2 separate regions of the Homo sapiens genome follow, and region 1 is linked to region 2. Evidence: fine-mapped expression QTL. A gene starts in region 2. The other region holds a variant in brackets. All regions are shown on one strand. Distances are between the middles of the regions. Region 1 overlaps CPZ (carboxypeptidase Z). Region 2 holds the start of GPR78 (G protein-coupled receptor 78).

What was found. PIP is the estimated chance that this variant, and not a neighbour inherited with it, causes the effect.
Region 1: its variant is fine-mapped to the expression of GPR78 in ovary (GTEx, PIP above 0.99).

The regions. Positions count from the first base shown.
Region 1 is chr4:8,601,521-8,605,901 of GRCh38, forward strand. CPZ (carboxypeptidase Z) reads left to right here. Exons shown (of 11, transcript NM_001014447.3): 4 at 2,456-2,668. LOC124900659 (a long non-coding RNA gene) reads right to left here. Exons shown (of 3, transcript XR_007058014.1): 3 at 4,207-4,381. Among named protein-coding and RNA genes, the nearest start is that of CPZ, 11 kb to the left of the region's middle. The variant G/A (reference allele first, on the strand shown) is at 2,195.
Region 2 is chr4:8,578,869-8,583,207 of GRCh38, forward strand. GPR78 (G protein-coupled receptor 78) reads left to right here and starts at 1,524. Exons shown (of 3, transcript NM_080819.5): 1 at 1,524-2,782; 2 at 3,663-3,776. The coding sequence starts at 2,115. RefSeq lists an enhancer at 1,684-2,345.

The sequences.
Region 1 (4,381 bases), 23 kb after region 2:
GTGTGGTCATGGGGTCCAGGTGGTCAAGGAGGACCAAGAGCCACACTGGAAGGAACTTGAGGGCTTTTCCATCGACAGTGACGGTGCAGGCATTGGTAGAGGGCGGGGCTGCTCCCCGAGGCAGCATGTTCCCCACAAAAGGGTGCCAGGCAGGGTCGGGGGCTCAGTGCAGATGGAGGATCCTCTCGCTGCCCAGGGCCCCCTAGCAGAAGTCTCCAGCCCCTTAGAGGCAGGCTGGGGTGGAAGGGTGCTGAGTCCAAGTGGGGGCAGTGCCCCCGCCCAGGGTGCAGTGAGCAGGCCTCGTGTGGGGGAGCCTGGGCTCAGAGTGCAGGGCTGGCCCTGGGGGTCCAGTCCTCAGCCACAGACCCTCCAGAACCATAGTGCTTACCCCTGGTCAAGGGGGGGCGGGGCATTTACATCCCCCGGGAGGTCTGGCGGGCAAAGCTTCACGATTGCTCATCGCTGGGCCTGGAAGATCACACAGAGGGTTTGGCTTGGAGTGACTCCTCCAAGCAGGGTCTGCACCGCCCTGTGGGCTCAAGGAGGGAGAGGAGCTGTGGAGAAATGCTTTGATGTCTCTTGCAGATGAAACAGTGGAGGGGGAGTGGGCAAGACTGGGCCACCATGGGCCACTTGTCTCTGAGGTGTGCAAAGAGGTGCCAGAGGGCCACTTGGCAGCGGGGCTGGTTGGGGGCCCTGCATGGAGTCCCCTGTGTCTGTTGTCTCACGAGTCGGTGTCCACCAGAGACCCTGCATGATCCGCAGCAGTCCTGGCCCGTTAGACCTTTCTGTGTAAAAGAAATGTTCTATTGTGTTCTGTCCAAGACAGTTACCACTGGCCGCATGTGGCCCCCAAGGCTTGGGATGTGGCTCTTGCCACTGAGGCCTGGATGTGGGCGTTTCATCGCATTTGAATGAGTCTGAACCTGTCTTTGAAGAGCCTAGGGCCAGTGTGTGCCACATTCAACTGTGCAGGGCAGTGTCCGCTCATGGTTGGGTTCAGAGGATCTGACTGCGGGTGCCACACATGTGCTAGCTCACGCGAGTCTCACGACAGCCTTGCTCCATGGAAGAGGAAGTGGAGCCTCGGGAAGGGTGACAGCAGTGGGGTCTTTAGCTGGAGTGGCCCAAGCCCATTGCGGATGGAGGGATGGATTTGGCCATTTGTCAAACAGCTACCGAGCACCCACTGTACATGTGGCTTTGTGCTGGGACATTGAGGAGGGCAGGAGAAGGAAGGCAGACAAACACCCGGGCCGGGCTCCAGCAAGCCCTGGGTTCCGGGCTATGTCAGGTGCTCAGGGCTGAACCTGGCATGTCTTGCAGCCTCTGGCTCCCAATCTGAGAAGGGTGGACCCTGGGCTCCCATGCGATGCAGCGGTAGGGGGGGTGCCCTTTGCCAGCAGGTGGGAGCCGTCTGTCTGCAGAGCTCAGTCCCTGTAGAGGTGGTGGAGCTGCCTGTGGGAGGCCAGGGAGGCGAGGAAGGAAGCCAAGCCCACAGCCCTGGGAAAGCCCAAGGAGTCGGTTGGAGATTATTTTGGGCATCTCTACCACCAAATTGCCGGCTTCCTCTGCTAGTCTTTCCCCTGGAGAACCGTTTTGAGCAGAAGCAAAACCACAGGGCAAGGAGAAGCTTAGAGGAGCACATTAACTCTCTGTGGACCCAGGAACAGCCTGCGGGCACCTGCGTCCTGCTCCTGTGGGCCTGACTGCTGCAAAGCCCCTGGCGGGGTGGAGGGAGCTAAGCGTCATCGGGGTGGCCCTCAGGGCACCTCTGTTCTAGTGGATGACAGGATGGTGGGGAAGCTGGTGCGTATGTGGTGTAGAGACGTTCGTATTCTAGTTCCAGAACCCCTCCCTCTTCCCCAGCCCCCTTTTTTCTTCCTCCCCCAAGTACTTCCCAGAGCCCCCCTTTCTGTTTCCTTCCTGGACAGGCACTCACTGTTGTACCGATGAGGTTGTAACAGAAACACTGGGAAGCCTCACAGCAGCCGGAGGGGGCACCACAAGGAGCCTTCCTGTTTCCACCATTAGCCAAGCAAATGAAGCAGAATACTGAACTGCCTGAGTGCCACTGTCATGGAAAACACGCCCAGGAAAATCCCCTCTGCACACCCAGCAGGGGTTTGCCTTGGGGGGTCCAGGACCCCATATATCTGTCTTCCTTTCTGTTGTCCTGCTCCGTATTTTAGGA[G/A]CTTCCCACAGTGGCCCCATAGTATGTTTACTCACAGTCACGTTAGGAACCATGGCGCTGTGCTGTGTACATACCTCAGGTGCCGTTTGGCTTAGATATCGTTGTAGGCACTGCAGAGGGAACTCTAATTAAAGATAGAGATGTCCAAGCATGGCTGTCGTGCAGAGGGGACTAAGGGTGCTGTGTGTGGTCAGCGTTCCCAGGCAGTGGTAGGAAGCCTGGGGGCCTGACACTGACTGAGCCCCCCCACTGCTCCCCCAGGAGGCCTGGAGGCTGACGAGGCACTGCCCTCAGGGCTGCCGCCCACCTTCATCCGCTTCAGCCACCACTCCTACGCCCAGATGGTGCGTGTGCTGAGGCGGACGGCCTCCCGCTGCGCCCACGTGGCCAGGACCTACAGCATCGGGCGCAGCTTCGACGGCAGGGAGCTGCTGGTCATCGAGTTCTCCAGCCGCCCCGGCCAGCACGAGCTGAGTGAGTGCCCTTGGGAGAGCCTGGCCTGGCCCCGTTTCGGGAAAGGGCTTGGGCCGCTCCACCTTCGGGTGCACAAGTTGGTGGGGTGTTTGGGGTCCTGGGCAGAGCTGGGGGCCTCAGGGAGCTGCTTGGTGCAGGCCACGTCCCGCTGGGCATGTGCAACCACTATATGTATAAAGAAGAATTTCTCCAGATATCCATCTTACTTCAAAATGTAGGGTGGCAGACTAGGTTATTTCATAATAATGGAGACATTGATCTAGTGGCTGAAAAGATATAAAACAAACAAGAAATTTTATTTTATTTTTTTGAGACAGAGTTTTGCTCTTGTTGCCCAGGCTGGAGTGCAGTGGCACGATCTCGGCTCACTGCAACCTCTGCCTCCTGGGTTCAAGCAATTCTCCTGCCTCAGCCTCCCGAGTAGCCGGGACTCCAGGCATGGGCCACCACACCAGGCCAATTTTTGTATTTTTAGTAGAGACAGGGGTTTCACCATGTTGGCCAGGCTAGTCTCGAACTCCTGACCTCAAGTGATCCGCCCAGCTCGGCCTCCCCACTCAAACAGAATCGGTTATTTTAGAAGCAGCCTCCATTTGACCCTTGGTCATCACCAGTTACTGAAAAATGCACCTGCTCTTTGTTTATGGACTCAGGGCCTTTTCAGTGCTGGCAGCCTCAGCCAGTCTTCATCCTACTGGTCTGGGCAGCATGAACACCATGAGCCCAAAGGCTCTATCTCTTACCAGGGGCCAGAGGCCACCTGGCCACACCCTGGCCCCCAAGGCTCACTATGTTCCCTCTCCAACTGTAACATGCTCTGGGCAGGAGGCAGAGGCTCTCCCTACAGCACTGGAATTTGAGGGCAAGAGGTGCCCCTGTGCAGAAGGCCAAGGGAGGTAACCAGCGCAGAAAGCTCCCAGGTCATTTATACCCCGGGATGTGGCATCTGAGGAACACGGGTGTTTCCTCTCATCCCTGGCTGTCCCTGGGCCACACACAGCTGGGGAGGGAGACATCATTTTCCAGGGGAGCAAGTGCGAGGCTTAGAGAGGAGGAGTGACTTGCCTGCAGTCACACAGCCAGTAAGGCCATGGGGCCTGGTCCACTCTTCTTCCTATAGTCCATTCATTTATTCATCCATCCATCCATCCATCCATCCATTTATTCATTCAGCCATTACACATCCATCCATCATCCACCCATTCATTCATACATCCATGCATCCATCCACTCATCATCCATCCATTTATTTACACACCCATCCATCATCCGTCCATCCATTCATGCATCAATTTATCCATTATTTCATCCAGCCATTATTCACTCATCCATCCATCATTGATTTATCCATCTATCCATTCATCCATCATTGATATATCTATCCATCCAGCCATCCAGCCAGCCATTATTCATCCATCCATCCATCCATCCATCCATCATTGATATATCCATTCATCCACTCAAGGGCCAACCACCTTCCCAGCTAAGTACCAATGTGCACTTTGACTTATTACACAAACATGAAGAGAGACCATCAGTTAAATTTGCATGAATCAATGATAACATATATTATTCATATTCTTGAGTTATGCTAACTAAGAATTCTGGCTAGGCATAAAAAACGAGCTTAACAAAAGTGATGACCTTGATGAGACCTCATTATATACAGAGGTTCTTGAGTCAAAACAAGTATGAATTGGTCCCAGCCCATCT
Region 2 (4,339 bases):
CTTTGGAGTAGTTGAGAGGTGACAGAGGCTGCTGTGAGTGGCTAGACCAAAGTCTCCCTGTGAAGCCACGTGATGACTCCACCGCTCCCCAGAGCTGCACATGGTCGCTCAGAAGCCTTGGAGGGGTTGGGGGAGGCCCCTGCTCTCAAGCCCCCACTATCACAATCACTTTGTCCCAGCTATTCACCTGCAAACTTGCTTGATCTGCAGAAGCTGCAGAGTGGCCCACTCTTCCTGGACATGTCAGGAAAACTTTGACGTGGCTGCTCTAGCTTCAGGGAAGGTCTAATTTGGTGAAAATTTGAAAGCAGGTTTGTGGGAGTGCCAGGGAGAAATGGGGAGAGAGAAAGCCTCTGTATTTGATGGATGGCAATGGCTTGGAGCTGGTGTGATGGCCTCTCTGGATGACAAGGACATTGGACTTAGAGCCAGAAGGACTGAGGTATGAATCTCGGCATTCCTGGTTTGTAGTTATGGGGACTTGGCAGAGACACTTGAATGAAACTTCCTTTGCCCAGGTATAAGACGGACCCCCTAATAAAGGTTGACTGTGTTCTGATCCTTCACTGCCTGCTGGGATGTCCTCAGCATTTTGTGCATGTTGGCCAATTTAACCCTAACAGCAACCACCAGAGGCAGATGCTATTGCTGGCTATTAATATCCCCATGTGACAGATGAGAATGTGAGGCCCAAGGGGTTTAAGTGGGGCTATGAATATCCCCATGTGACAGATGAGAATGTGAGGCCCAAGGCACAGAACCAGGGGTGCCCCAGCATGCCAGTTGTGCACCTGTGGCTTTTCCCTTGGCCACTTTGCAGCACCGGCACGAGAGAGGCCCACAGGGTGAGCCTCCACACCACCAGCCACCCTTTGTCCCTCAGAAAGGGCTGGCAGAGCCTGCAGGTGAGGGTGGGTGTGGGGAGGGGTGGGCAATCGTCTGCCCTTCATTTCTGTCATGTTGTGGCTGTCACTGGGGAGAAAATGCCAAAAAGCTTCCTGGAAGAAGCAGCTTCCAGGAGGCTTCACCATATCCTTGTCCTGCCAAGTGGCCACGAATGGATTAGAAGATTCCCACTGGGTGAGAAGGCTCAGAAGCCACCACAGAGGATGGCGGAGGTGGGAGAGGCCTCGCACCGCGGGGCTCCAGGAGCCAGGTGAAGGACAGGCATTTCTGTATGGCACCCAGTTCTGGGTGGGTCCTCCCAAGGTGCCCCCTTCTTTGTCTCTCCCTCTGTTGCTTTTCTCTCCTCTTCCCTCTTCTTCCCCCCACTTCCTCTTCACTTTTTCTTCACTTTTTCTTCTTCTTCTCTTTCCTTCCCCCATGCCTTTCTCAACCTTGTTTCCACTTCTTGTCGCTCTTCTTGCTTCAACAAACGTCGATGCAGTCACAGTTCCTGGGCTGAGGCTGGGGGATGGGAGGAAGTCCTGAGGGCAGCCCCCGCCCCCTTCCCCGCCCCGTCACTCCCTCTGCCCCGCCTGCACAGCTTCTTGCCAATTCATTCCCGCCCCTACCGCCCCTATAAGCCACCAGGTCGCTCCAGTTTGGTGCCAGCGCCTGGAGGGAGAGGCGTGGCGAGGGCTGTGCTGCCTAGGATCCACTGAGTGGCTCTTGCTGGCGTGTCAGCTGCGCGCGAACCAGGGCTGGGAGGCTCGGCTGGAGGTGTGACCAGGGCAGGGACTGACCTGGCCCGGAACAGAAGCGCGCAGAGTCCCATCCTGCCACGCCACGAGGAGAGAAGAAGGAAAGATACAGTGTTAGGAAAGAGACCTCCCTCGCCCCTACGCCCCGCGCCCCTGCGCCTCGCTTCAGCCTCAGGACAGTCCTGCCGGGACGGTGAGCGCATTCAGCACCCTGGACAGCACCGCGGTTGCGCTGCCTCCAGGGCGGCCCCGGGCTGCTCCTGCTCCGCAGAGCTACGCCCTCCCCCCGGGTGCCCCGGACCCTGCACTTGCCGCCGCTTTCCTCGCGCTGCTCTGGACCTTGCTAGCCGGCTCTGCACCTCCCAGAAGCCGTGGGCGCGCCGCTCAGCTGCTCCATCGCCTCACTTTCCCAGGCTCGCGCCCGAAGCAGAGCCATGAGAACCCCAGGGTGCCTGGCGAGCCGCTAGCGCCATGGGCCCCGGCGAGGCGCTGCTGGCGGGTCTCCTGGTGATGGTACTGGCCGTGGCGCTGCTATCCAACGCACTGGTGCTGCTTTGTTGCGCCTACAGCGCTGAGCTCCGCACTCGAGCCTCAGGCGTCCTCCTGGTGAATCTGTCTCTGGGCCACCTGCTGCTGGCGGCGCTGGACATGCCCTTCACGCTGCTCGGTGTGATGCGCGGGCGGACACCGTCGGCGCCCGGCGCATGCCAAGTCATTGGCTTCCTGGACACCTTCCTGGCGTCCAACGCGGCGCTGAGCGTGGCGGCGCTGAGCGCAGACCAGTGGCTGGCAGTGGGCTTCCCACTGCGCTACGCCGGACGCCTGCGACCGCGCTATGCCGGCCTGCTGCTGGGCTGTGCCTGGGGACAGTCGCTGGCCTTCTCAGGCGCTGCACTTGGCTGCTCGTGGCTTGGCTACAGCAGCGCCTTCGCGTCCTGTTCGCTGCGCCTGCCGCCCGAGCCTGAGCGTCCGCGCTTCGCAGCCTTCACCGCCACGCTCCATGCCGTGGGCTTCGTGCTGCCGCTGGCGGTGCTCTGCCTCACCTCGCTCCAGGTGCACCGGGTGGCACGCAGACACTGCCAGCGCATGGACACCGTCACCATGAAGGCGCTCGCGCTGCTCGCCGACCTGCACCCCAGGTATTGGCCCAGTGCATGCCGACAGGCCCAGGCCAGGGACTTGGGCGCTCCCTGGGCAGTTGGCTTGAGGAGCCTGTGGGCATCACCACCGTTACTCCGCCCAGAGTTCACCAGCCACAGCACTGCCCCTGCACGCTGCTCACAGGGGTTTCCTGTTGGTTCATTGGTGCAGACACTGCGGGGGCCTCTGCCTCCTGGGATATGTGCTCAGTGCACAGGGAGCTTTGCGCAGAGCTGTGGGGTGTGCTTCTCCGGGAGGGGTTCCGCGGGCTCTGCTGTGGGCGGCCAGACACACCCCTCCTGTGCATGGCTGTGGGTCTGAGGCATCTGCTTGTTTCTGCCCACTGCTGACCCAGTGCCCTTGCATGGACTTGGGCTTCAAGTCTTGAGCAGGGTCCATCCCCCATGCTTTCTGCTCACTACTTGGCAGGATTTGTCTCCTGAATCTCTAGCTGGTGTCGCCATTGTTCCAAATTACCTCCTGTAGGTGTTCCCCTTTCCCCCTTGGCCCCCCACAGAACACCCAAGAGGCTCTCCTGCTCCTGGGGTGGGCAGGCCACGTGACTTCTCCCTCCTTGAGGGCCCCAGCCTTGCCCCTCCATCAGCAGCCTGCCTCAGTTGCCTCTGTGTGGAGAAGGATGAGCCAGAGGGAAGGGAGGAGGAGCTGGCCCTTCTTTCCAGACTTCCTTTATTTCACCTACAAAAAAGCAAGCCTACCCCTTGTTCTTTCTCTCTCCCCCATCCCTCTGTCCTCCTCAGGTTCCAGGCTAAACATCCTCCTGAAACCCTCCTGTCTGCCCTCACTTCAGCCCCTGGGCTCTGGGCCTGGGTTCTGTCCCCACCCTGCCATCATCCTGACCACTGTCCTCTGTCCCCACAGTGTGCGGCAGCGCTGCCTCATCCAGCAGAAGCGGCGCCGCCACCGCGCCACCAGGAAGATTGGCATTGCTATTGCGACCTTCCTCATCTGCTTTGCCCCGTATGTCATGACCAGGTGGGTCCTGGCAGTCCGGCTCCTGTTGTGGGAACAGCTGGGTGGGCTTGGCCTCAGTTGAGTAGGCCTCTGAGGTTTCCCAGCAAGATATCTGGAGGGCGGCCACCACCAGAGGACCCTCCTCCACACCTGACGGGCTCAGGGCTGTGCTTCAGCTCCTGGGAAAGATCCTGGGAGGGAGGTGGCACTGGCTCCCATCCTGTCCTATAAATGAGGAGACTCTCCTTGTCCAGGCACAGGCAGATATGGGGTCTGTGAATCAGCACCTGGCTCTTTAAACCTAGAAAGCTTTCAAAATCAGGCAACCTGGGACTAACTCAGGCCTCAGACTCCGCATCTCCTGGGCGTGGAGTTGGGAATCTGGGTGGAAGCTCCAGCTGGAGCCTCGGGGCAGTAACACTGCCAGGTGAGTGTTCTCTTTGCTTCTCTCTTTCCTGGAGACCTTGGCCTGAGTGCTTGTCAGGTCAGAATTACCTGGAGTCACAGGTAATTTGGGAAAGAGTGTGTGTAAAGGGCCTGCTGGTACCATCATCACAGTGCTGTGCTGAGGGGCAGGGGAGTCT